3 separate regions of the Homo sapiens genome follow, and all the other regions are linked to region 1. Evidence: fine-mapped QTL for protein levels in blood plasma. A gene starts in region 1. Each other region holds a variant in brackets. All regions are shown on one strand. Distances are from middle to middle. Region 1 holds the start of AFM (afamin). Region 2 has its middle 13 kb from the start of ALB. Region 3 overlaps COX18 (cytochrome c oxidase assembly factor COX18).

The links. PIP is the chance, under the fine-mapping model, that this variant and not a neighbour inherited with it causes the effect. Protein levels are from antibody-based Olink assays in UK Biobank. Linkage for the fine-mapping came from a reference panel and not from the study's own genotypes, which makes the PIPs less certain.
Region 2: its variant is fine-mapped to the plasma level of the AFM protein (UK Biobank, PIP above 0.99).
Region 3: its variant is fine-mapped to the plasma level of the AFM protein (UK Biobank, PIP above 0.99).

Annotation. Positions count from the first base shown.
Region 1 is chr4:73,478,119-73,486,738 of GRCh38, reverse strand. It overlaps AFM (afamin), which reads right to left and starts at 4,994. Exons shown (of 15, transcript NM_001133.2): 1 at 4,876-4,994; 2 at 2,750-2,798; 3 at 2,349-2,481; 4 at 666-877. The coding sequence starts at 4,963.
Region 2 is chr4:73,387,242-73,395,861 of GRCh38, reverse strand. No RefSeq gene overlaps it. Among named protein-coding and RNA genes, the nearest start is that of ALB, 13 kb to the left of the region's middle. The variant C/T (reference allele first, on the strand shown) is at 3,786.
Region 3 is chr4:73,044,759-73,053,378 of GRCh38, reverse strand. COX18 (cytochrome c oxidase assembly factor COX18) reads left to right here. Exons shown (of 6, transcript NM_001297732.2): 6 at 1-1,017. Among named protein-coding and RNA genes, the nearest start is that of COX18, 21 kb to the left of the region's middle. The variant A/G (reference allele first, on the strand shown) is at 3,988.

The sequences.
Region 1 (8,620 bases):
CCTTTGAAGTCCTTATCATTGAAGTTGCTAACTCCAAAGTAGGAATAATGATTGCAATTCTAATCCCAAACACTGAACTGTGGCTATTGTCCTTCCATCCACATGCTACCAGCTGGTCAGCAGTTCTCTCTTCCATGTTCAAAGAACAGCTATCTATACACACTCTATCTGAGATTCAGGGGTCCTGTTTACTTTTTTTCAGATAAATTTGTGATTTAGATTTAGATTTCAAGGAGCATACCAACCTTCCAGAAAAAGTCTGTTTCTGCAATGACAGCACTATATTAAAAACAGATGTTTTGCTAAACATCCTGTAATTGAATGTCTGCCTGAGGTGAAAACAGCAACTTCCCCTTGGGAAGAGTATATTATTTCCTCTACTGTGCATCCTACCAATTTAACACCATGTACACACCTCTGCTCTAGGACTTACCAATTAGAAGATAAAATTCGTTAATATAATGGTCTTGTAAGCAGGGTCCATATCTTGATCATAGTTATATCCTGAACACTGAGCACAGTATCTGACACACAGTATGTTTTGAATGAATGAAACAATTAATCAATAAATTAATGAACCCAGCCATATTTATTTGAGATAGATATTAGATTCAGCCTAAGACTAATTCTTCAACTGGATCATTTTTTACTAAGATTAAACTTACTGATTTAAAAGGGATTCTCTGTTACTTTCATAAGCCTGGCATTTCTCTTCGGGATCCAGGGTAGGGAAAGGAGGCAGAAATCCCACATCAGATTTCTTGTTATAGAAGAAACAGAGTCTTCTTTGAGCATCAACCTTACTGCAGCAGTGTGAGAAATTATGCTTTTGTGGCAGCCCCTCCATAGCACATATTTTTTCCTGTAAAACATTATTCTATACAACAGAGAAGAAAAGGACAATTTTTAGTCATGGTAAAGTAAAGCTTCTGTACTCACTGAGAAAACACAATGACTAATTTTCCCACCATTACCAACAGAGCTCCTTCTCTTTCTCCTACTCCTCTCCTTCCCCTTCCCCTTCCCCTTCTCCTTCCCTTCCCCCCCTCCTTCTCTTCCACCTCCTCCTCCTCCTCCTCCTCCCCTTCTTCTTCTTCTTCCTCTTCTTTTTCTTCTTCTTCTTCCTCTTCCTCTTCCTCTTCCTCTTCTCCTTCTCCTTCTCTTTCTCCTTCTCCTTCTCCTCCTTCTCCTTCTCCTTGTTTTCTGCTTCTTCTTTGGAATGGGATCTTGATATGTTGTGCAGGCTAGATTCGAACTCCTGGGCTCAAGTGATCCTCCAGCCAAAGTGTCCTAAATAGCTGGGAGAACAGGTGTGCCAAATCAAAGCATTTTTACCCAAACCCTTGACAATCATCCTGCACTTTCAGAATCTTTGTTCCTCTGTCTTGTCACAAGACACTTCCACCTCTTACTCTTCCCTTGCTGCCTACATTTCCCTTCCACCAGGCTTTTCTACTCACCTCCCAAGGTGATGACATGCTGGTATGTTAATGTATTGGTAGAGTGTTTAGAAGTAGTGTTTAGTAGTAGTTTTTTGGAGATGCAGATAGTGATTCTACTTGGAGGAGGCCCAGAAAAGGGATGTAACAATAGAATACATATTGAGAGAGGCAGCTAAGGAGGTACCTCTGTAATTTCATGTGCAGTTTCAAGCTATGGCTTCCTCTTCTGCCTGAACATATAGGGCATACTGTATACATACTGCAAATACACAGCAATCTCCTTCTGTGCATCAAAATACAGAATTAGTATCTTTTCCAAGGAAAGTACCTTGTTCTAAATACCAAAATTAAGCAAAATGAAAATGCTGCGCACAGAACATCTTTCATTTCATATTTTCAAGCCAGAAATTTTCTCAGTGTTGGGCAAAAAATCTTGTGTGTTTAAGAAACACAAGCAATTGGCAGGGCACAGTGGCTCACGCCTGCAATCCCAACACTTTGGGAGGCCAAGTTGGGAGGATCACTTGGGGTCAGGAGTTTGAGACCAGGCTGGTCAACATGGCAAAACCTCATCTCTACTAAAAATACAAAAAAATTAGCTGGGCATGGTGGTGCATGCCTGTGATCCCAGCTACTAGGGAGACTGAGGCATGAGAATTGCCTGAACCCAGGAAGTGGAGGTTGCAGTGAGCCAAGATTGCCACTGCACTCCAGCCTGGGTGACAGAGCGAGACTCTGTTTCAAGAAAAAAAAAAGAAGGAAAGAAAGAAAGAAAGAAGAAAGAAAGAATGAAAGAAAGAAAGAAAGAAAGAAAGAAAGAAAGAAAGAAAGAAAGAAAGAAAGAAAGAAAGAAAGAGAAAGAAAGACATAAGATAAAAGGAAAAGAAACACAAGCAATTTACTTACAGGTAATTTTGAACACTCTGGGAGCGTCTTGTCAGCCATACATCTGTCTTTGTATTCTACCATGTCTTTCACCAGCTTTTCCATTTCTTCAAAGGTTGCTTCCTGAACATACTGAGCAAATGCAATGATGGTGCTGCAACAGTTCACATGGGGTATACAAAGATCAGTTGCAGAGTTTCCATTTATGGTCAAGAAAAAGTCACAGGAACATCCTGACTAGCCTCAGGAAATTATCTATTGTAATGGCTATAAATTTTACAACTTCTTTGCCTGAATTTTATAATTAAAGTTGTCTTCTTGGATATGGCTTCTATTTAGTTAAATTACTTTTGAGAAGCATTAACATTTCTAGAATATATCATTTTAAAAATCATCATCAAAAAGTATTTAGCACAACTCACATGTATTCAATATTATCTTCTATAAATTTTTGAGTACTATTGAAGTTCTCTGAAAAGCAAGAATATTTAGGTTATTACATAGCATGGTTTTCTAACATTTTTCAAATAAATAACTATACATGGCATTTAAGTGTATAAAATACAAAATAGACCACTGATGACAGGAGATAATTTTGCATATTTAACAAGAAACAAATAAGTCATGTGAACAAAATAGGAAATCTTAGTCATTGTTGATTATGTGTTCAAGAAATATTTACCAAATTGAATTGACCTAAATAAATCTTAATCTGACTAGACTTTAAATTTGCCATTGATGGCTCCCCAGATAGAAATGTCAAATACATTACCATGCTAAATGTCTATCATTTATGACTAGAGAAGTGATATGAAGATTAACTAATGGCTGATTCAATGCCATAACAGAGCCTGATGAGAGATGCTGTAGCATGCTGGTGGTCAGCATAGTTTTTAGCGCTACTCAGTCACAGCTATTTAGGTCATCTCCAGATCCACCTAAAATCATGGATTCCCTCCCAATGAGCATACACTAATTGGAGCATATTTATGTTTGTTCACATAAGCTACATTTATTTTTTGCAAAGTGTTGTGCTGGACCCTGTGAAGCAATCAACAATGACTAAAATATCTCCCCTTGACATCAGGTTCCTAAGCTGCTCTCTAATAGAAGTTACTCGTGCATGTGACAATAATCTAATTTAGAATGGGATTAAGTTGGGAATGCTTTATGAATCCTGGGTGAGAAAGAAAGAAAAAAAAGGATTATAGGAGGAGTGAGATATGAGTTGAGCATGAGTAAATGTAAGAGATTCAGCTGACGGAAAAATGAAAAACCCTGTCTGTCTGTGTGGAGAGAGAATGATGTGAATAAATGCATTAAGAAATCTTGAGAAGTATTTAGGGAAAGTCAATCTATTTTGATGAGAAAGTGGGTCACAAAGAGGAATAATGGTACCTAGGATAGAAAGAACCTGGGCCCAGATTATAGGAGTCTTGTATATAAAGCTAAGGAGTATGGGCTTCATTTGGAAGACATGGAGAGCCCTGGAAAATGTTTATATAGGATAGTAATCTGATCATTTCTATACACTAAGAAATACGAGTCAGGTAGTGGTATATGTAATGTCATGGGACTTTCCACAGTGCCAGACAAATAGAAAAAGGTAGAAAGAACTATTGTCAAATAAATGGGCAAAAGAAGGGTGGATGGGACAAAGTAAGAAGGCCATAGGAGACTTTGCAACTGTCACACTGAGAAATCAGCAAGATCTAAATTTTGGTAGGAGTAATGGAAATGAAAAGGAAAATATAGATACAAAAGATATTAAAGAGGCAAAAAATCAAGATTTTGAAACAGGTTGTTACGAGGGAAAAGGAGCAGGAAAACTCAGAAATGACCAGTCTTCACTAGCTGGTATTGTAGGGGCATGTCAAATTGAGTAAGACACGTAAGACACGATCCATGCCTTCAGGGCCACTGCCATGCTTAGGGCACATTTGTTCAAGTCAAAGAAAGGAGCTCCTTCTAGGCCAAAAAGGATTAGAAAAAGACACCTCCTCTAGACATATGAGGTTCAAAATATTTCCCCTTTGGATGGAAGAAATAAAAAAAGTCATCCCTTCCTACAGACTGAGATGGCCTTGGCCAGGCTCAGGAGGGATGTTCAAACTGTACAGTTGAAGGAGGAACTAGGTTCTGCATTCCATAAAGATATAGTTGGGAAATATGTTGGACAACCAAAGGTTCCAGAAAAATCCCAGTTAACATCTATTGTTCCACTGTTACCATAAACTATACATATATGCAAGAAATACCAACATTAAAATCCAAATGTATCTCCCAGCAACACTTTCTGTCCTGTCATAGACTGCTGATTATTCTTCAGATGTGACAACTCTTTCTTCATATAGACTTGGTAATATAAAAATTACCATCAAAATAAAAATTCTGAAAAGGTTAGTTTTGGATAACTGGTTAGCCTATGTAAATTAGTGAGAGGGTGAAAAAAGCAAGTAAAGAATTAACTTGAAAGAAAACAAAATTTTAAAAATAGAAATTATCCTAACTGGTCATGCTTTAGCTGATATACAAGTAAATTTCTTACCTATATCCCGAGGTTGTGTGGGCAGGGTTAGGGATTCAGTCAAAAAAAACAAGAAAAAAATAAAACCTGTAAGTTTTAGTAGTTTCATCTTTGTAGAAACCACATTTACAAAAGAAAGTAATGTTGTTGAGGAAAATCAAGTTTTTATATCATTCTTTCACATTATCAGTAAAAAAGTAACCTATTTAATCTATTTCTGAAATACTGAGTATTTGATTTTTTTGATCACTCTGCAGAATTCTTGCTAAATATTAACCAGAAAAAAAAATTACCTTTGTGTTTCGCTGGAAAAAATCTACTGAGTTGGAACAAAAGTCCACAGGCTAAGTATGCACAATACTTAATCAAATAGACAACCAAAAAAAAACTTAAAATACTGCAAATGTTAAAGGAACAAAGGGCCAGAACAGATATAATCAAGCAATCTCTCTTATGCATATATATCCAAAGGAAGTGAAATCAGTATCTCAAAGATATATAAATATGTACGCCTACTATGTACTCACAAAAATTAAAAATAAAAAATTAAGAAGATATACCTGCACTTCGGTGTTTATTACCTCATTATTCACAATAGCCAAAATATGAAAACAACCTGTCAGTCAACATATAAAAAACTAAATAAATAAATAAATCTCACACGCACACACACACACACACACACACAATGGAATACTATTTAATCTTTAAAAAGAAGGAAATTCTGCCATATGAGAATATGTGGATGAACCTGGAGAACATCATGTTAAGTGAAATAAATCAGACACAGAAAGAAAAGCACTGCATAATCCTACTTATATGTGGAATCTAAAAAATCAAACTAGAAACAGAGCATAAAATGGTGGTTATCAAGGGCAGGAGGTAGAGGAAATGGGGAGATGCTTGTCAAAGGGTGCAAAGTTTCAGTTACGTAGAATGAGTAAGTTCAAATGCATCACATGGACTACAGCTAATAATACTGTATTGTATGCTTAGAATATGCTAAGAGACTAGGTCTTAAGAATTCACACTGTCTTAAAAGAAAAAAAAATAGATAACTGGCTGGGCGTGGTGGCTCACACCTGTAATGCCAGCACTTTGGGAAGCCGAGGCAGGTGGATCTCTTGAGGCCAGGAGGTCAAGACCAACCTGCGCCAACATGGCAAAACCCTGTCTCTACAAAAATTAGCTGGGAGTGGTGGCATGCGCCTGTAATCCCAGCTACTCAGGTGACTGAGGCATGAGAATCACTTAAACCTGGGAGGCAGAGGTTGCAGTGAGCCGAGATCGCGCACTGCACTCCAGCTTGGGGGACAGAGCAAGACTCTGTCTCAAAAATAAATAAATAAATAAAATACGTCAAGAGACGGATGCGTTGATTAGCTTGGCTGTAGTACTCAAGTCACTATGTATATGTATTCAAAACATCATCTTGCACGCCTTAAATATATATATTTTTTATTACCTTTTTTTTTGAGACAGTCTCACTCTGTCACCCAGGCTGGAGTGCAGTGGCGTGATCGTGTCTCACTGCAACCTCTGCCTCCCGGGTCCAAGCGATTCTCCTACTACAGCTTCCTGAGTAGCTGGGATTACAGGTGCACCCCACCATGCCAGGATATTTTTTGTATTTTTAGTTGAGATGGGGTTTTACTGTGTTAGCCAGGATGGTCTTGATCTCCAGACCCTGTGATCCGTCCACCTCAGCCTCCCAAAGTGCTGGGATTACAGGCATGAGCCACCACACCAGGCCTTTAAAGTAAAAAGAGTTTTTTAAATGCAATGGAAGCCGATGAGAACTTGATAATTAAAATAAATAATTACTGGAATATATTATAACACAGGAATTTTTTTAAATTCATGAACCTATACCAATACAAAATTAAAAATTGGGAAAGGAAAGTTCTTCTCTACAGAAGAATGCCAACTAATAATTGTAGTTAGAAACAAAGCATAAACATTTGTAACCACCATAGTAATAGCTGATTTAGGCCAGTTTCATGAAAGAATGATAAAGTCATAGGTGAATAATTATTGAGGAATAGCATATTTATACTTTCAAAATATCACTTCACAAGTCACTCATTAATTTAAAAGTGCAAAACACATCTTTGCAGGTGAATACATAAACAATGATATAGTCACTCTATGGATTCTTATTTGTCTTTAAATCTAATGAATATTAAAAATATGTCATATCAGAGGAAATATTTACTAAATGACTTTTGGTAAAACAGTAGAATACAAAATTTTATATGTGATGTGTAGAAAATGGCAGGGTGGACAGACTCACTAAACCAAAGAAAGGGAATGAGAGAGATAAAAGAGAGACAGACAGGGAGACTGAGAGATCGATTTTGTCTCCAAACAGAATTATGTAACAGTATGGTCAGCATCTTTGCTTGCAGTTAGTGAAATGTCCTAATTGTGCTGTCCTCTCATTGTTGCCTCTGTTCTAATTGCCTTTTGTCAGATGATTAAAAAGACCAAAACTGTTGCTAAGTATATTCAATTGGTAGTCAGAGATCCATTCACTTTTTATTTTCTTCTCAGATATGGTACTTCTTATTTCCAATTACTGGTTGACATCTGGCAAGTAGAAAATAGCTCTAATTCATCTATTCCACAAATTTAGTCCTCCCTACCATTAATAAGCATGGGATATTTTTATGGCCATATGAAGTGAAATAGCAGTATGTGCCTACTTAGAAACTTAATGTATTTAAGCTAATTTTCTTCCTGGTTATTTTGTGTATTTGCCTCAAATGATCTAATTACTGACCCCTTCATTAATGAGTAAAGTATTTTTAAATTTTCTTCAGTAAATACGTCAAATTTTGCTTCAACAGTATACATACATACATACATACATATACATCCATACACTGAAGAAAGAAAGAGAAGAAGCCAGCAGTATATGAAAAGCTTGAGAAAATCCTGGAAACTATAAAACAGATGGAATCAAGTTAATGGAGAAAATAGATAAGAGCAAGCTTCAACCCAAATCTTGGGAGATGACATTCATTCTTCCCAAGAGCATTCCAGAACTGTTTCAAGTCTAAAGAACATAAAGAACCGATATGGGCCATGGGGAAATAATCAGGAGAAGAAGCTAAAACCTTATATTCTGAACAGCTAAATTAGGACAGCACATTACTTCCTCCTCTCTTTCTCTACCACCACACACAAATATATAACATACTTGGGTAACAATGTTTGATATCTTTTACATCTAGGTCAAAATCCAAAAATGACTCTTTCTTAGTTTGGATTTCCCAAAAGCAGACCTCTAGGGAAAGACTTGTACTTTATATGGAAGGCAACTGGAGGAGGCACAGTGAGGAAGTAGGACCAAAAAGGGAGAAAAGCAGCCAATAATTCAGGTGTTAATGAGAACAATAATAGTGTAGGCAACTGGGATGTAAGCTTGTTCAGAACTGTCTGGGAAGTGGAAGATGCCCTAGAATCATCCTGACAGAGGACTGAGAGGCTGGGCCATTATTCCATTAACTGAAGACTACATGAGCAAGAATAACAATCAAGACTAATCAGATATACCTGAGCAACAAAAACAATAATTCATAATTATTCATAATTCAGGAAAAAAGAAAGCTATTGAGGCACACATTCTAAAAACATCATAATAGTTAAAACAGTGTGATGATATGGGCAATATGCAGATACAACAAAATGAAAGTCTAACATTTGATCCAAATTTTAGCCTATCTGTACAGTAATATACTTCTAAAAAGATCAGAGATCCAAA
Region 2 (8,620 bases), 91 kb after region 1:
TTATTACAATAAACTCTGAATTAATGATCATATTTCTAGTCCCTATCTACTCTGATTAATACCAAAACTTTCCTCTCCTTAAGATATTTTATTGGTTCCCCATTACATTTTAAATAAATGCCAAGCTTCTTGCTTTGGTATTCAAAATGTTCTGTAATCCATCTGGACAAGGTGGCTCAGACCTGTAATCCCAACACTGTGAAAGGCCAAACTGGGAGGATTGCTTGAGCCCAGGAGATTGATACTAGCCTGGACAATAAAGTGAGATCCTGTCTGTACAAAAATAAATAAATAAATAAATTGCCCAGATGTGGTGGTGCACACCTGTAGTCTCAGCTGCTCAGAAGCCTGAGGTGGGAGATTTCTTGAGCCCAGGAGTTTAAGTCTGCGGTGAGCTATAATCATGCCACTGCACTCCAGCCTGGCAACAAAGCAAGACCCTGTCTCCAAATTTAAAAAAAAAAAAAAAAGCAACATACTCTGTAATCTGATTCCACTAGTTTATAATGTCCCTGAAAGCAGAAGCTCTGTCTTTCTCCATCACAGCAGTATCCCCAGTGGCTAGCAGATGACTGGCGCATGTGTGTTCAATGTCTGTTAAACAGGTGAGTAGACAAATGAACAAATATGTGAAGAAATGATCTCCATAATATAATCTGTTATTCTCTTTCATGAATAAATTTTCCCATTAACTCAGTTATACTCCCTGTAACATTTTTTGCAAGCCTACAAGGTATTAAATGCCATACTAGATGAGAAGATGTGCAAGGTGCTATGAGGCCATCTTCCTTTTTCCCAGGGGGTCATGTTCATTTTCAGACACAAATCTCTGCTTATTGGGCTTTCTCCCACCATGATGATTTCCCCTGCTTTGTATCTATCTAAATCTTCCCATCTCCAGAGCACACCTCCAGACCTTCTCTTTTCCCAGGCTTACATTCTTCTCACTGTCTTCTGATGACCTGTATTACTTTGTTTTCATTCTTAGTTACATCTCTTGAATTTATAAGATTTTATTAAATTGTAATCATTTTATAAGAGTAAACATTTTCCCTATTCACTGTATTCTTTACAAAATCTCAGTTCAGTACTAGACAGTAGATAGTAATTAAACCTATGAATTAAATTCAGTGAGTAAAAAATTTCCAAGTGATTGTATTATGAAAAAACAAAGATTGCTATATCCCCATCTCTAGCAAATTTAAGATTCACATAAGTAATCACATACATTCCCAGCATGTAGCAAGTGCTCTATAAATATTTGTTGACTGAATGAATAAATGAATAAATAAATGAACAAATAAGCCACTTCCAGTCTGATGTCCATCAACTCCTTGATATCCATGAAAGTACAGTAAAAGTCCATGAGTTTGTTGCCAATAGTAGTTGAAAATAACAATAATAGAAATTTTGCATTTATTCATTATAAAGCTGCAAACACTAAAATCTTAAGTGTATTTATTTTGTATTAGAACTATATTAACTCTACTGAATCCCTGAGTGTGTGAGGGGAAAGAGGACAGCAGGGGATGCCCTGTTTGTTTAACAAGCACTTATAAAATGCCTTCAAACATGCCAGTCCCTGTTCTCAGCAGCGCTTTACCAGCAGTGGCATATTTGCTTCTCTGGTACTCTTACTAGAATAGCATTGTCATTATTGCATTTTACAATTGAGGAAACTGAGGTTAACATAAAGTAGCTAAGATTAAGTAACTTGCCCAAGGTCAATAGCTAGTGAACAAAACAGCAAAGAGGCATTCAAGATATATATATCCTATAATGCCTTTCAAAAAATTAGGACAACTATTCTCTGATAGTCCCTCAAAACTATTATTATGTTGACAAAGCTACATTCATTGCTATTGGCAATAGAAAATTTGGGAGAGGAGGGAAATTGAATTGCGACCTGAGATGAGGGTGTACCCTTTTTGTCTGGTGCTTTATTATTTGCTTATCTTAAATAGGCTTTCTAAGTGTCATAAGGGCTTCTTTGTACCTTTCCTGTAACCCACAGCAGCAAAACAGATCATTAGTACATGGGGCAGTACATGCCGAAGAAGAAAACAGACACTGGCAACCATGTTGGGAATGAGAAACATCCATGACTAGTTCTAATTTCAGAGTCTCACAATAAATCCAAGATGAAATCTACTATTTCATATTGCTTTATTCTACCATTTCTTTTTTCTTGAGACTGAGTCTTGCTCTTGTCACCCAGGCTGGAGTGCAATGGTGTGATTCCGGCTCCCTGCAACCTCGGCCTCCCAGGTTCAAGCGATTCTCCTGCCTCAGCCTCCTGAGCAGCTGGGATGACAGGCCCCGCTAATTTTTGTATTTTTAGTAGAGACGGGGGTTTCACCATGTTGGCCAGGCTAGTCTTGAACTCCTGACCTCAGGTGGTCCACACACCTTAGCCTTCCAAAGTGCTGGGATTACAGGCGTAAGCCACCGCATCTGGCCTATTCTACAATTTTTTAAACAGCCACACAAAGCTTTATTTTATATTTTAACTGACATTCTTTTTACTTATTACTTCATCACTGCTAGAAAACAGGTAAAAAGAATACTCTTTAAAACACTTAAAGTCTTTCTAACCTACACCAAGTTCTGCTCTTCTGGGAAGATTAGGTTTGAATTTGTTTTTGGTTTAGCTGTACTGATGATTACATCTGTGGAATTTGTTTAAAGACAGATGGTTGCTCAGATACAAAACTGCTGGATTAAGCAGAAGCAGAGTGAAGTGGAATGATAAATACAAAAATGCAAGCCATGTGAAGGCAGCAGTCAGAATAAAACCAGGTATTCATGAGAATGAGAGTCTTTCCAGTAATTACCTAGAGATTTTCTGGGTGAGATATACAGTCACTTCATAGAACTACCGCTGCACATTTTTATCTATTTCTTATTTATTCACCGAGCTCACTCAAATGAATATCTAGTGTCTGTTCTATTTCCCACATATTTCTAGTGTCTGAGCTAGGTACCACATGAAATATTATCGTGTATTGATTAAGAGCACTAGTTTGGAATTAGACTTCTCAAGTTTGAATACCAGCTCCACTTCTTACTAGTTGTGTGGGTAAGGTACTTCAACATGCTATGCCTTGATTTTCTCTCTTGAGAATAAATAATAATCTTAATTTATGGGGTAGCTGTAAAAATTAAATTAGTTAATGCTCATCAAGTATAAACATTGCCTGCCTCATATTGACACTCAGTGAATTTTAACTAGTGTTATCATTAATGCTATAAGAAAAAGCAGGGGGGACAAGCACAGGGTCTTACTTCAAAAGTGTTCAAGTGAAATTGCAATTACAAATATGCATGCAAGCGCACTTAACTAATAAGGCAAAGGTATTTGGCTAGCCATGAACTAACCCACAGAGACTCTATGGTTGTTCACGCAGGAAGGAAGAAAGATCTATGGGTCCAAGTGGTTAGAGATGTGACTTAACTAGGTCTTAGAAAATGGGTACAACTTGGACATTTTGCTATCCTCATTATTCAAACCAATCCAGTATTAAGAGAATAGAAAAGAATCTTAGGCCTAGAAAAGTCCTTAGAGATCATTGGTTTCATTCCCTTTGTTTTACAGATTAAAATATAAAGGCCAGTTAACCAAACCATCAGCAAATTTTTTTGATTACTTACCGTGTGCCAGTCTCTATTCTAAGTGCTGGGGATTCAACATTGAATAGACTGTACATATTCTTTGACCTGAAAGAGTTTACATTCCAGTGCAGAAGACAGCAAATTAACAAGTAAATAAATAAACCTTCCATGTA[C/T]TGATAAGTTGAAGATGATAATAAAATCAGGTACTGAGAGTGAGTATGATAGTGAAGGACTACAGCTTTCCTGAGGGTGTCAGAGAAGGGCTGTCTGAGGAAGTAACACTCTCATTGAGATCTGAATGCTGGTAATAGCATACAAAGTGGTCAGCAGTGGTCTGAATATTCTGAAAATGTTTTCATTCTGAATATGTTTTGTGAGTAGCACTGCCAGTAATTACTGAAAAATTAGGTGTGAAATGTAAGAAAGAAAAAGATTCAGTAATGACTCAGGTTTTGACCTAAACAACTGAGAAAATGTTGTCACCATTTACGGAAATGGAAAAGACTGGGAATGGGGGGTACATGGAAAGGGGGAAATGGGAGGATATACACTAGGCTTAAGGAAGGTAGTTACTAGTTCTGTTTGGCCTTGTTAAGTTTGAAATACTTGTTAGACATCCTGGTAAAAATGTGATGTTGTGTAATATATGAATCTAGAATTCAAGGGAGGACTTCTGGCAAAGGATAAAAATTCGAAAAAAATTAGTACATAGATAGTATTCAAAGAGATCATCTGATCACCCAGGAGGAAAATGTAGACAGGAAAGAGATGAGTGCTGAGGGCGGAAACTTCCATTCTACATTTAGAAGTCTGAGGGTGGAGGGGAGGCCAGAGGAAGCCAGTGAAAAGGAGAAGGTGAAATGTAAGAGGAAAATCAGGAGCATCTGTGATGTACAAGTCTAGAAAAGTAGACTCAGACACTTATGCAATGTAATGTTGCTGGTTAGCAGCAGAGTTAGGAATGTTATTATTATTCTATAACTAACTTATAAGCACTTTAAAGACAGCAGGGGCCATAAATTCCCAGTTATTTTATTTATTTGTCACCAACAGTACTTAAGAGAGCTAAATATATGGTGAAACATATGGGGCAAACTCACTAAGTTATTATTAATTGGTCATACATATATGAAACAAAATAAAAACTAAGTTTACCTTGATAGGAAAACTTAATTTGAATTTGTTTTCAGTTTCCAGGCTTCCATTTTTACTTATTTGCAGTCCTACTGAGTTCCAAATTAATTTTTTTTTTCTACTATCACTTGGTTATCCCCATGAACCATTACTGGATAATCACATCACACTCTGATTTAGAGACATAATACCTATCTTGGTGATATATATATTGGTGCCTATGTATCTTGACACTAAGATTTAAATAATCTGTGCAGAGAACAAGATAGATTTCCAGTTGTGTTTGATTTGGACAAAGAGTTAACTCAAAATCTTTCTTGAGATTTTACATTGTTTTAAAAACAGTTTTACTGGTTAGGCATATGCAGAAACTCCTTACATCTTATACAAAAATTAACTCAAGATGGATTAAAGACTTAAACGTAAGACCTAAAACCATAAAATTCCTAGAAGAAAATCTAGGCAATACCATTCAGGACATAGGCATGGGTAACGACTTCATGTCTAAAACACCAAAAGCAATGACAAGAGAAGCCAAAATTGACAAATGGGATCTAATTAAACTAAAGAGCTTCTGCACAGCAAAAGAAATCATCATCAGAATGAACAGACAACCTACAGAATTGGAGAAAATTTTTGCAATCTATCCATCTGATGAAGGGCAATATCCAGAATCTACAAAGAACTTAAATAAATGTACAAGAAAAAACAAACAACCCCATCAAAAAGTGGGAAAGAATATGAACAGACACTTCTCAAAAGAAGACATATTTGCAGCCAACAAGCTATTAAAAAGCTCATCATCACTGGTCATTAGAGAAATGCAAATCAGAACCACAATGAGATACCATCTCATGTCAGTTAGTATGGTGATCATTAAAAAGTCAGGAAACAAGAGATGCTGGAGAGGATGTTGAGAAATAGGAATGCTTTTACACTGTTGGCGGGAGTGTAAATTAGTTCAACCATAGTGGAAGACAGTGTGGCGATTCCTCAAGGATCTCGAACTAGAAATACCATTTGACCCAGCAATCCCATTACTTGGTATATACCCAAAGGATTATAAATCATTCTACTACAAAGACACATGCACACATATGTTTATTGTGGCACTATTCACTAGAGCAAAGACTTGGAGCTAACCCAAATGTCCATCAGTGATAGACTAGATAAAGAAAATGTGGCACATACACACCATGGAATACTATGCAGCCATAAAAAGGATGAGTTCATGTCCTTTGCAGGGACATGGATGAAGCTGGAAACCATCATTCTCAGCAAACTACCACAAGAACAGAAAACCAGAAACTGCATGTTCTCACTCATAAGTGGGAGTTGAACAATGAGAACACATGGACACACGGAAGGGAACATCACACACCAGGGCCTGTCAAGGAGTTTGGGGCTAGGGGAGGGATAACATTAGGCGAAATACCTAATGTAGGTGAGGGGTTGATGGGTTCAGCAAACCACCATGGCAGATGTAAACCTGCGTAACAAACCTGCACATTCTGCACATGTACCCCAGAACTTAAAGTATAATTTAAAAAAAGAAAAAAAAAACAATTTTAAGCCTTTGTGAAGCACAAAAATATTAATATGCACATTAATTCCTTACACGGATTTTGCAAATTAAAAGCAAAGACACACCAAAAAAATCTCTAATCTAAGATAGGAGACTGTGATAGCTTAATAGAATAATAAGCAATATGTACTTCCATTCATTCATAGTACTTTCAAAATTTAAGATATAGAAGATCCAACACCTTACACTTTAGAATCGCCTCTGATCATAGTTCATTTCTGTTGCCTAAAAAATATGCCCTGTAGAAATCCTTCAATATATTAAAGAATAAATGTATTTAAATATTTTTAAACTGTAATATCAGCCCATCCACCACTTTGAAGGCCATTGACCTTATGTTTACACTTTAATCCTTTACCACTGATAATTTGCAAAACTCAGGCAGACAGCAAATACTCTACAACTCTAATCAACAAGGAGTGAACTATGTCCATTGAAAAGTATACTCTGAGCAAATGAATTACAGAAAGTCTACACAAAAAAAATGACCTTCAAGAACTAGCCTATCTCTGGGAGAAGGAGAAATGCTGAGTCTGGCATTTGTGTATCAACTGGAGATTTCATGGGCAGAGAATCAACAAATGAGTCTCATCATTCTGTAATGCGGTTGACAGTTTACAGCTCTAAAACCTGCAATGATTAATATAATAAAAGAATCATTCACTTAAATATGACAGTGATCTAATTTTGGGAAATACTAAAAATATATTTTATTGTTATATCCCACATACTCTGCTGAGCCCATTTTTAACACATTGGTGGACAGACATTTATAAGAAACAATATGGTGAAATAAAACTCAGGATTATAATGTCAGTTTTCTACAGTCCCTGGGAAAATTACTTTACCCCTTCCAATGTGAAAAAGTCCTTTAAAAATTGCAATGAGTGTCATATTACACACAAATTCGAAAATGATTTCAGGGACAGTGCTTAGAATAGTGCTAGGTGCATAGCAGAAACCTGCATATAAATGTTAAAACACGTCGGCCACTAGGTCAGCCACTAAACTCGGGGTGAGTTACTTTTTGGTGTCTCAGTTTACACTACAAATACAGAAGATAATATTTACTATGTATAATTCATACGTTTTTCTGATATTTAGTACTAATTGTTTTTCAAAATGAATTAGGGCTCATTGTTAAATAATCCTCATTTATCATTCAAAAAATAGTGTCATGGTAGAGAGCATTTCTCTGAAGATCCTTAACTTCTGTTTTAATATGACATAAAAATGCCTTTGATTAATACAAAAATACAGTTAAGTAGAAGAACAAATTCTAGTATTTGATACTACAGTAAGAAGTGAATCATAATTTATATTTCAAAACACCTATAAGAGAAAAATTGTAATATTCCCAACACAAAGAAAAGATAAATGTTTGAGGTGTTAGATATCCCAATTATCCTGATATGATGATTATACCTTATACACACATATCAAAATATTACATGTACCTGAAAAATATGGACAACTAAGACATATCGATTGAAAAAAATGTCAAGAAAAACCCTCCGGTTTGCTTTATTTTATAGGATTCCCAAAATCTTTGGGGTTGACACTGCCATCACTGTCATCTGGATGGTTACAAAAACACACAAACTGAAGCCAACCCAACCCCACAAAGTAAAATAAATATTAATAACTATGTGATGGGATAACATTTCTTGATCTAGTACACTCTCTTTTTTTCTTTAGAAAATGTCAATTTTTGTCATCAACCTGTTGAGTCATTGTGTGCTAAATGCTTTGGAGGAGGGAGGTAAAGGATGAAAAGCATGAACAAAGGGTTTCTTTTTTAATGTTAGTTTCTAAAACCTAAGCTCCTAGAGGAACTGAAAGCATTCTTGACATAAGCAGAATGTTTGGGAGAAATATTTGAGAAAGAGAAAAGGATCTGAGAAGATGCTAGAAATAATCTATCAGGATGGGGAGAAAAAACAGATGTGGAGGAAAGTAATAAGAATATGATCTCTGAAAAATTAACTCAAGATAGATTAAAGATTGAAACATAAGACCTCTAACTATTAGAATCCTAGAAGAAAACCTAGGAAATACCATTCAGGACATCAGCCTTAGGAAAGAATTTATGACTAAGTCCTCAAAAGCAATTGCAACAAAAACAAAAATTGACAAGTGGGACCTAATTAAACTAAAGAGCCTCTGCTCAGCAAAAGAAACTGTCAAGAGAGTAAGACAGCGTACAGAATGGGACAAAATACTTGCAAACTATGCATCCAACGAAAGTCTAATATGCAAAATCTAGAAGGAACTTAATCCAACAAGCAA
Region 3 (8,620 bases), 430 kb after region 1:
ATATACCCCATTCCCTTCCCCCCTTAAGTTTTGATTTCCCAATAACGAAACTTTCTTCCCTTTTATGGGCTGACTCCTCCTCTACATTCTGTTCGTTTATTGTGACCTTCTAGGTGCATGAGCAGTGCGGTTTGTTACATACCAAGGCTGGCTGCCAGTGCTTAGATTTATCATGCCTTGAAAATGGACCATTTAAAATGTTTTCCCACAGTTCACATCTCAGAGGAGGTACAGAGGTCCTCCTAGATGACATTGGGAAAATTGTAGTTAGTGTGAAAAAATGAGTGCCCAAAAAAACCTTGGTACCTTCTGTGTTTTGTTCCTATTTTTTTTTTATTGGACGCATAATCTGCTTATATTTTGCACCTATTCTTAAATCACACTTATACCTTCATATTTTATTCTTCTAAGAATCCCAGGAATCACCTTTTTTTTTTTTTTAGGAGTCACCTTTAAAATTGCCTATATGTCAGATTTAAGTCCCAGAAGCAGTAGGAATGCAGACCCTAGAAAAAAAATTAAAGAATGTAGTTTATTTTTTCCTCTGGGGTGTTAACTGCAGCTACTACAGAATGCAGACTTTGGAATTTCAGGCATAACATCTGAAACCATGCAAGAATTTAGATTTCTGTATTAAAGCTAAATCTTCATGTAAATATGGTGTAAAACAATGCATTATCATTATAAACACTGTGCCTTACGAGCTGGTTCAAGCAGAACCCAGATAATTGGAAATTATATGAATTTATAGATTTTCCATTTGAACCTTATTAGTGTTGTTTAAACTTGTAATAATGGATATTTTCTAGTTATCTGTTTTCTTTTTTTCATACACTGTGATGGTATTTTATGAAATCATTTGGTTTTGGGAAGTTGGAATTTCCTAAAGCCACAGCATTAAAGTCAGATAATTTTATTTACCCAAAAGTTTCTGGAACGCTGTGGTTCTGTACTGTGTATACAACTAAAATAAGAATATAAATTTATATAAAAATAAAAATACAACTATATAAGTAAGAATTTGATCTATGTACAGTTTAAGCAAAGCCCTGAAGACCCTGAATTTACGTGTATTCTTCTGCTAGTGATATGGAATATGAAGATTCAATATCTCCTTGATAACTCTTAAGAAAGTAAAAAGCGAATCGTTGAACCCAGGAGGTGGAGGTCGCAGTGAGCCGAGATCACGCCACTGCACTCCAGCCTGGGTGACAGAATGAGACTCTCTAAAAAAATATAATAATAATTAAAAACTACTAGTGTGATGCAGCTAATGCTAAGTGGGAGAATCCCTTAGATGGGTAAACCTTGATGGTACGGTTTGAATGTCTTTTTCAAAACTCATGTTGGAACTTGATCTCCAGTGTGGCAGTATTGAGAGGCATGGGGCCATTACATGGTGATTGGATCATGAGGGCTCTCTTCTCATAAATGGATCAATTGGCTTATGGATTAATGGGTTATAATGGGAGCAGAGCTGGTGTCTTTACAAGGAGAGGAAGAGAGACCTGAGCTAGCACTTAAGCATGCACATCCCCCTCACCATGTGGTACCAGGCACTGCCTCAGGGCTCTTCAGAGTCCCCACTAGCAAGAAGGCTCTCACTAGTTGTACCCCCTTGATCTTGGGCTTCTCAGCCTCCATAGCTATAAGAAATAAATTCATTTCCTTTATAAATTATCCAGTTTCAGATATTCTGTTAAAAGCAACAGAAAACACTTAGTATAACGAAACAAGATTAAGTTGATCTGAGAACCTTATAAAATTTAAAAGTTCATAGCTTAGAAAAAGCAAGTAATCCCAGCACTTTGGGAGGCCGAGGCGGGCGGATCACGAGGTCAGGAGATCGAGACCACGGTGAAACCCCGTCTCTACTAAAAATACAAAAAATTAGCCGGGCGCAGTGGCGGGCGCCTGTAGTCCCAGCTTACTCGGGAGGCTGAGGCAGGAGAATGGCTTGAACCCGGAAGGCGGAGCTTGCAGTGAGCGGAGATCGCGCCACAGCACTCCCGCCTGGGCGACAGAACGAGACTCCGTCTCAAAAAAAAAAAAAAAAAAAAAAAAAAAAAGAAAAAGCAAGATAAATTTAAAAAGCTTGCTCTTTGAAAAGCTTTGCTAAAGGATTTAGCAAATTTTAAGAACAATTACTGAGTATATGACAGTATATTTTAATCTTAATAGAAATTAAATCATAGGTGAAAAATTAATCAGCAAGAGAGCATGCGTGTGAATCCTGTTTATAATTATGTATTCAACATTCTAGATGGATCACATAGTTTCAAAATAAAATTGTACATAATTTTGAAGACAGCCATTTGGTTTTTTGTTTGTTGGTTTGTTTTTGAGTGGCGCAATCTTGGCTCACTGCACCCTCTGCCTCCCAGGTTCAAGCGATTCTCCTGCCTCAGCCTCCTGTGTAGCTGAGACCACAGGCATGCACCACCATGCCCAGCTAATTTTTGTATTTTTAGTAGAGACGGGGTTCCGCCATTTGGCCAGGCTGGTCTCAAACTCCTGACCTCAAGTGATCTGCCCACGTTGGCCCCCCCCAAAGTGCTGGGATTACAGGCGTTAGCCACCGCACTGGGCCTATTTGAGTGCTTTTTATCATCTCAAAATAGAGTAGACCCTCCTCTCTCCACACCTGAAAGCCATAATGTTGTAAGAGCTTCTAAATGACAGCTGCTAGGATGCCAACGAATAAAGCAAACTGAAACTGAACTAAACTGTTCATCAGGTAAGGACTAACAGCCACAGAGAGGGAGCTATTGGGTGACTCGTGAACAACCAATAGCTGAACCAACCACTGAAAACCATTAGTGGAATACAATCCAAAAGCAAAAGGAATTATTAGAAATTTTGAACTTTATGTAGTAATTATATTGCTGTTAATAATGCATTTTTAAAAAACTTTTAGTAAATAATTATGTTTAGTAGGTATATTAGTTTGCGCTGCTTATTACCACCAAGAGAAAGATATTGAAGAAATCTATTGGAGATATTTTACATCTTTTTGAAAATTTTCTTTTAAGATTGTGGAAATTAGGATCAACCCAAAGCCAAAATTTTGATAAACTAATTTTTTAATCTGGCTTTAGAGATTGCCCCTAAGGAAAAGGATTAGTTCCACCAAAAGAGGATCCTCTTTCTCCACAGTTCTCTATCCCCATGCTCAGAAAGCCTAGCCTTCATATCTGTTTCAACTAAGTCCCTCCACAATCCCAATTAAGAACTATATATAAGGCCGGGTGCGGTGGCTTACACCTGTAATCCCAGCACTTTGGGAGGCCGAGGCGGGCGGATCACGAGGTCAAGAGATGGAGACCATCCTGGCCAACATGGTGAAACCTCGTCTCTACTAAAAATACAAAAATTAGCCAGGCATGGTGGCACGTGCCTATAATCCCAGCTACTTGGGAGGCTGAGGTAGGAGAATTGCTTGAATCCGAGTGGCAGAGGTTGCATTGAGCCAAAATCATGCCACTGCACTCCAGCCTGGGCAAAAGAGTGAGACAATGTCTCAGAGAAAAAAAAAAAAAAACACTACGTATAAAAGCATTTTGATCCTGGTTGATATACATCCATAGGAACCACAAGGTTGGCAGGGTGCAGTGGCTCACTGCCTGTAATCCCAGCACTTTGGGAGGCTGAGGTGGGTGGATTACTTGAGGTCAGGAGTTCGAGACCAGCCTGGCCAAAATGGTGAAACACCATCTCTACTAAAAATACAAAAATAAGCCAGGTGTGGTGGCACATGCCTGTAATTCCAGCTACTCAGGAAGCTGATGTAGGAGAATCAATTGAACCTGGGAGGCAGAGATTGCAGTGAACCAGGTAACTCCAACTGCATTGCATTCCAGCCTGGACAACAGGAGTGAGACCCTGTCTTAAAAAAAAAGAACCACAAGGTCTGGCTGATAGCACAAGAAAAGGAAAAACAAATAGCAGGCAAGGAACAGCTAGAAAATTTTCAAGTTTTGTTAATCA[A/G]CTATATTAAAACTAAGGAAGCACTTTCCTAACAGGCCTTGCCTACTTCTCACAACACTAAATTTTTGGAGGGCTGTAACTTGAACTTGAGGGAGACAAAACTTTACCCAAAGCGTGAGTAACAGAGGGACCATGTTTCCTTGTGTTCTACAACTGACTACCTTCTTTATTGACCGGTGTTTAGGTAAGTGTTGCAAGGTAGCCTTACTTTCAATTGCCTAGTCCTATACTGCTGGTTTTGTTTTATAAAATAAGGACTTTTTTTGTGTTTTAGAACAAACGCATCAATGGAAAGACCTGAAATAAAAATCAGTGCTTCAAGAAAGCAACCTCAACCATTCCTATTGAATTATTCTAAGGCAACAAAAGATAAATTTCTATCCTTTGTTTGTTTGTTTGTTTGTTTTTTGGAACACAGATTTTCACTTGGTCACCCAGGCTGGAGTGCTATGGTGCAGTTTTAGCTCACTGCAACTTTGAATTCCTGGGCTAAAGCAATCCTCCTGTCTCAGCCTCCTGAGTACCTGAGACTACAGGTGCATGCCACCATTCCCAGCTAATTTCTAAAATTTTTTGTAGAGATGGAGTCTTGCTACATTGTCCAGGCTGGTTTTGAACTCCTGTTCTGGCCCCAACACCTGGCCCAAATTTCTATCCTTGAAGATCTCTGCTAGAATTTCATTAGAAAGAGGCCACTTTGGAAAATGACCAATTTCTCTTTTCCATTTTGAGATTTCACAGGCATGCTTCCCTCTCTTTGTACCTCTGATGAGGCAATTCTTAATACATTTGTTTTGCCTTAACTGGGAATTGGGAAGGCAGTATTGTATTTAATTTAGCTTTGATTTTTGTCTTTTGGGAAAATTATAGCTCTGCAGGACAACATAAAAATGGAATATGAAATATACCTTACTATATTCATTTGATAGCATTTGTGTTTTTGTATATCTGCATGTTCCAACTGTTGCACAATTAATAATTTGAAGAATTTTTTTCTAATTATAAGCTTCTGTGAAAGGGCCACATGCACAAAGCAGCCCCCAAATGCAGAAGGACCCAAGGAACCAAAGAACAAGGCAGACAAAACCAGTTTGCAGTAAAGGATGATTTACTGGGGAACTTAGAGATGGAAGCATGGTCTTGGGCAGCAGCAAGACAGGTAGGCCTCTGCATCAATACTCCCCAGACCCAGGGCTTTTATACCATAAGGAAAGGGTGTACATGCTGTATAGAGACAGTTAAAGGCAAACCTCCAGAAGAGGCAAGACTGCTATGTGGTCATAGCCTATAATTTGTGTGATAACATCAAGGTTGCTTGGATCTAATGGCCGGCATGTTCTTACACTAAGGACAGTAAATAAAATAGGACTCAGGAGGCGTCTTTAGGACTGGGGTTAATTAGAAGTCAACATGGCAGATTAGCATCCAATATAGAGTCACTTTTATTGCCACAAACCTCAAGTTTCCTGGATTTTCAGTGAATGATGGATGCCTCTGAGGGTGGACATACTAAAAATATAAAATCTGTACCTATAGGGAGAATTTGCAGCTTCTTCTATGCTATTTAAAATTTATTTCGTGGGCTGCTAAAAGTAAGAAATTTTCTTCTTGTAAAGTTTATTATAGAAGCTTCAGTTATGCTTATCAATATTGTTTTTGAGTACAGATGTTAAATGTTCTGTTTTGTGGTCCAAACAAAAACAAGTTCCCATTTAAAATTAAACTCGCAACAAAATACAATCTTAAAATGAAATATCTTCTTCCTCATCTTTATTTCTAATCCCCTCCCCAACAGAGAGAAAGACTTACAGATGAATTATTGGAACTTATACTCTATATCTATGTGATAATGTGTTATTTTACTTAAAATGCAGTCAATCCTCATTATTTACATATTATAGGAGTGAGTTATAATGCTGTTGGCTGTGAGTTCCATGTTAATGAATTAATACATAGCTTTGTTCTTTGTGTGTTTCTATTTGAAGACGTTAATATATACATATATGCACATTTATATGTATAGTATCTATGTATGTTTATTTTATATACAGGCATACCTTATATTGCACTTTGCTTTCGTGTGTTTCACAGATATTGTGCTTTTTACACATTAAGGGATTGTGCCAACCCTGCTTCAAGCAAGTCTATCAGCCCCATTTTTTCCAGTATCATGTGCTCACTTTGTGTCTCTGTGTCACATTTTGGCAACTCTTGCAATATTTCACACTTTTTCATTATTATATCTGTTATGGTGATCTGTGATCAGAGATCTTAGTGTTTATTTTTTTATTTTTTAAAATAAACTATATATGTATATATATTTTTTGTAGCGATGGGGTCTCCCTATATTACCTGGACTGGTCTCCAAGTTGTGGCCTCAAGTGATCCTGCCACCTCAGCATCCTAAAGTGCTGGGAATACAGGTGTGGGCTACCATGTCTAGCTCGATCAGTGATCTTTGATATTACTATGATCATTGTTTTGTGGTGTCATGAAACATACCCCTATAAGACTAGTGAACTTAATCCATAAACGTCGTGTATGTTCTCACTGCCCCAGTACCGGCCATTCCCCCATCCCTTTCCCTCTCCTTGGGCCTCCTTATTCACTGAGACATAACAATGTTTAAATTAGGCCAATTAATAACCTTACAGTGGACTCTTAAGTGTTTAAGTGAAAGGAAGACCGACATATCTCATTTTAAATCGGAAGGCATGTCAAAACCCAAGATGAACTGAAAGCTAGACCTCTTGTGCCAAACAGCCACATTGTGAATGCAAAGGAAAGGTTCTTGAAGGACATTAAAAGTGCTACTCCAGTGAATGCACAAATGACAGGAAAGCAAAACAGCTGGATTGCTGACATGGAGAAAGTTTTAATGCTCTGGATAGAAGTTTAAACCAGCCACAACATTCCCTTAAACTAAAGCTTAATCTAGAGCAAGGCCCAACTCTCTTCAATTCTGTGAAGGCTGAGAGAGGTGAGAAAGCTGCAGAAGAAAACTTGGAAGCCAGCCGAGGTAGGTACATGAGGTTTAAGGAAAGAAGTCTCCATAACATAATAGTGCAAGTGCAGCAGCAAGTGCTAATGTAGAAACTGCAGCAAGTTCTCCAGAGTATCTACCTAAGATGACAGATGAAAGTGACTACACTGAACAAAAGATTTTCAATGTAGATAAAACAGCCTTCTAGTGGAAGAACGTGCCATCTAGGATTTTGATAGCCAGAGAGGAGAAGTCAATGCCTGGCTTCAAAGCGTCCAAGGACAGGCTGACTCATACTACGGACTAATGCAGCTGGTGACTTTCAGTTGAAGCCAACGCTGATGTACCATTCTGAAAAATCCTAAGCCCTTAAGAATGATGCTAAATCCATTCTGCCTGTGCTCTGTAAATGAAACAACGAAGCCGGTATGACAGCACATCTCTTTACAGCAGAGTTTACTATTTAAAGCCCATGGTTGAGACCTCGTGCTCAAAAAAAAGATTCCTTTCAAATATTATTGCTCTTTGACAGTGTACCTGCTCACCCAAGAGCTCTGATGGAGATGTACAAGGACATTAATGTTTTCATGCCTGCTAACACAGTATCCATTCTGTAGCCCATATATCAAGGAGTAATTTCAACTTTAAGTCATATTTAAGAGATACATTTTGTAAGGCTAAAGCTGCCATAGATAGTCATTCCTCTGATGGATCAGGGAAAAGTACATTTAAACCCTTCTGAAAAGAATTCACCATTCTTGATGCCAAAAAGAATATTTGTGATTCATGGGAGGAAGTCAAGATATAAACATTAACAGAAGTTTGGAAGAAATTGATTCTAATCCTCATGGGCGGCTTCAAGGGATTCAAACTTAAGTAGAGAAAGTCACTGCAAAAATGATGCAGAAATTGCCACAGCCACCCCAACCTTCAGCAACCGCCACCCTGAGGAATCAGCAGCCATCAACATCAAGGCAAGACCCTCTACCAGCAAAAAGATTACAACTCACTAAAGAGTCAGATGATTGTTAGCATTTTTGAGCAATAAATTGGGGTTTTTTTGTTTGTTTGTTTGTTTTTTGCTTTGAGACAGAGTCTCACTCTGTCGCCAGGCTGGAATGCAGTGCCGTGATCTCGGCTCACTGCAACCTCTGCCTCCTGGGTTCAAGCGATTCTCCTGCCTCAGCCTCCCGAGTAGCTGGGACTACAGGCACGCACCACCACCCCTAGCTATTTTTTGTATTTTTAGTAGAGACGGGGTTTCACCATGTTGGACAGGATGATCTCGATATCCTGACCTCATGATCTGCCCACCTCCACCTCCCAAAGTGTTGGGATTACAGGCATGAGCCACTGCCAGCCACAATAAAGTATTTTTAAATTAAAGTATGTTCATAGTTTTAAGACATACTGCAATTGCACATTTAATAGAGTCCAACATAGTGTAAACATAACTTTTATATAAATTGAGAAACCAAAACATTTATGTGACTTAATCGTGATATTCAGTTTATTGCCCTGGTCTGGCAATTACTTTTCCATAATTACCTCTCTTTGTTCAACCTAATATGTAAGCACTGTAGAGATAGGGTTTTACTATGTTTCCTAGGCTGGCCTAGATTTTGCCACCTCTTTGGGAGTTGCTGTGTA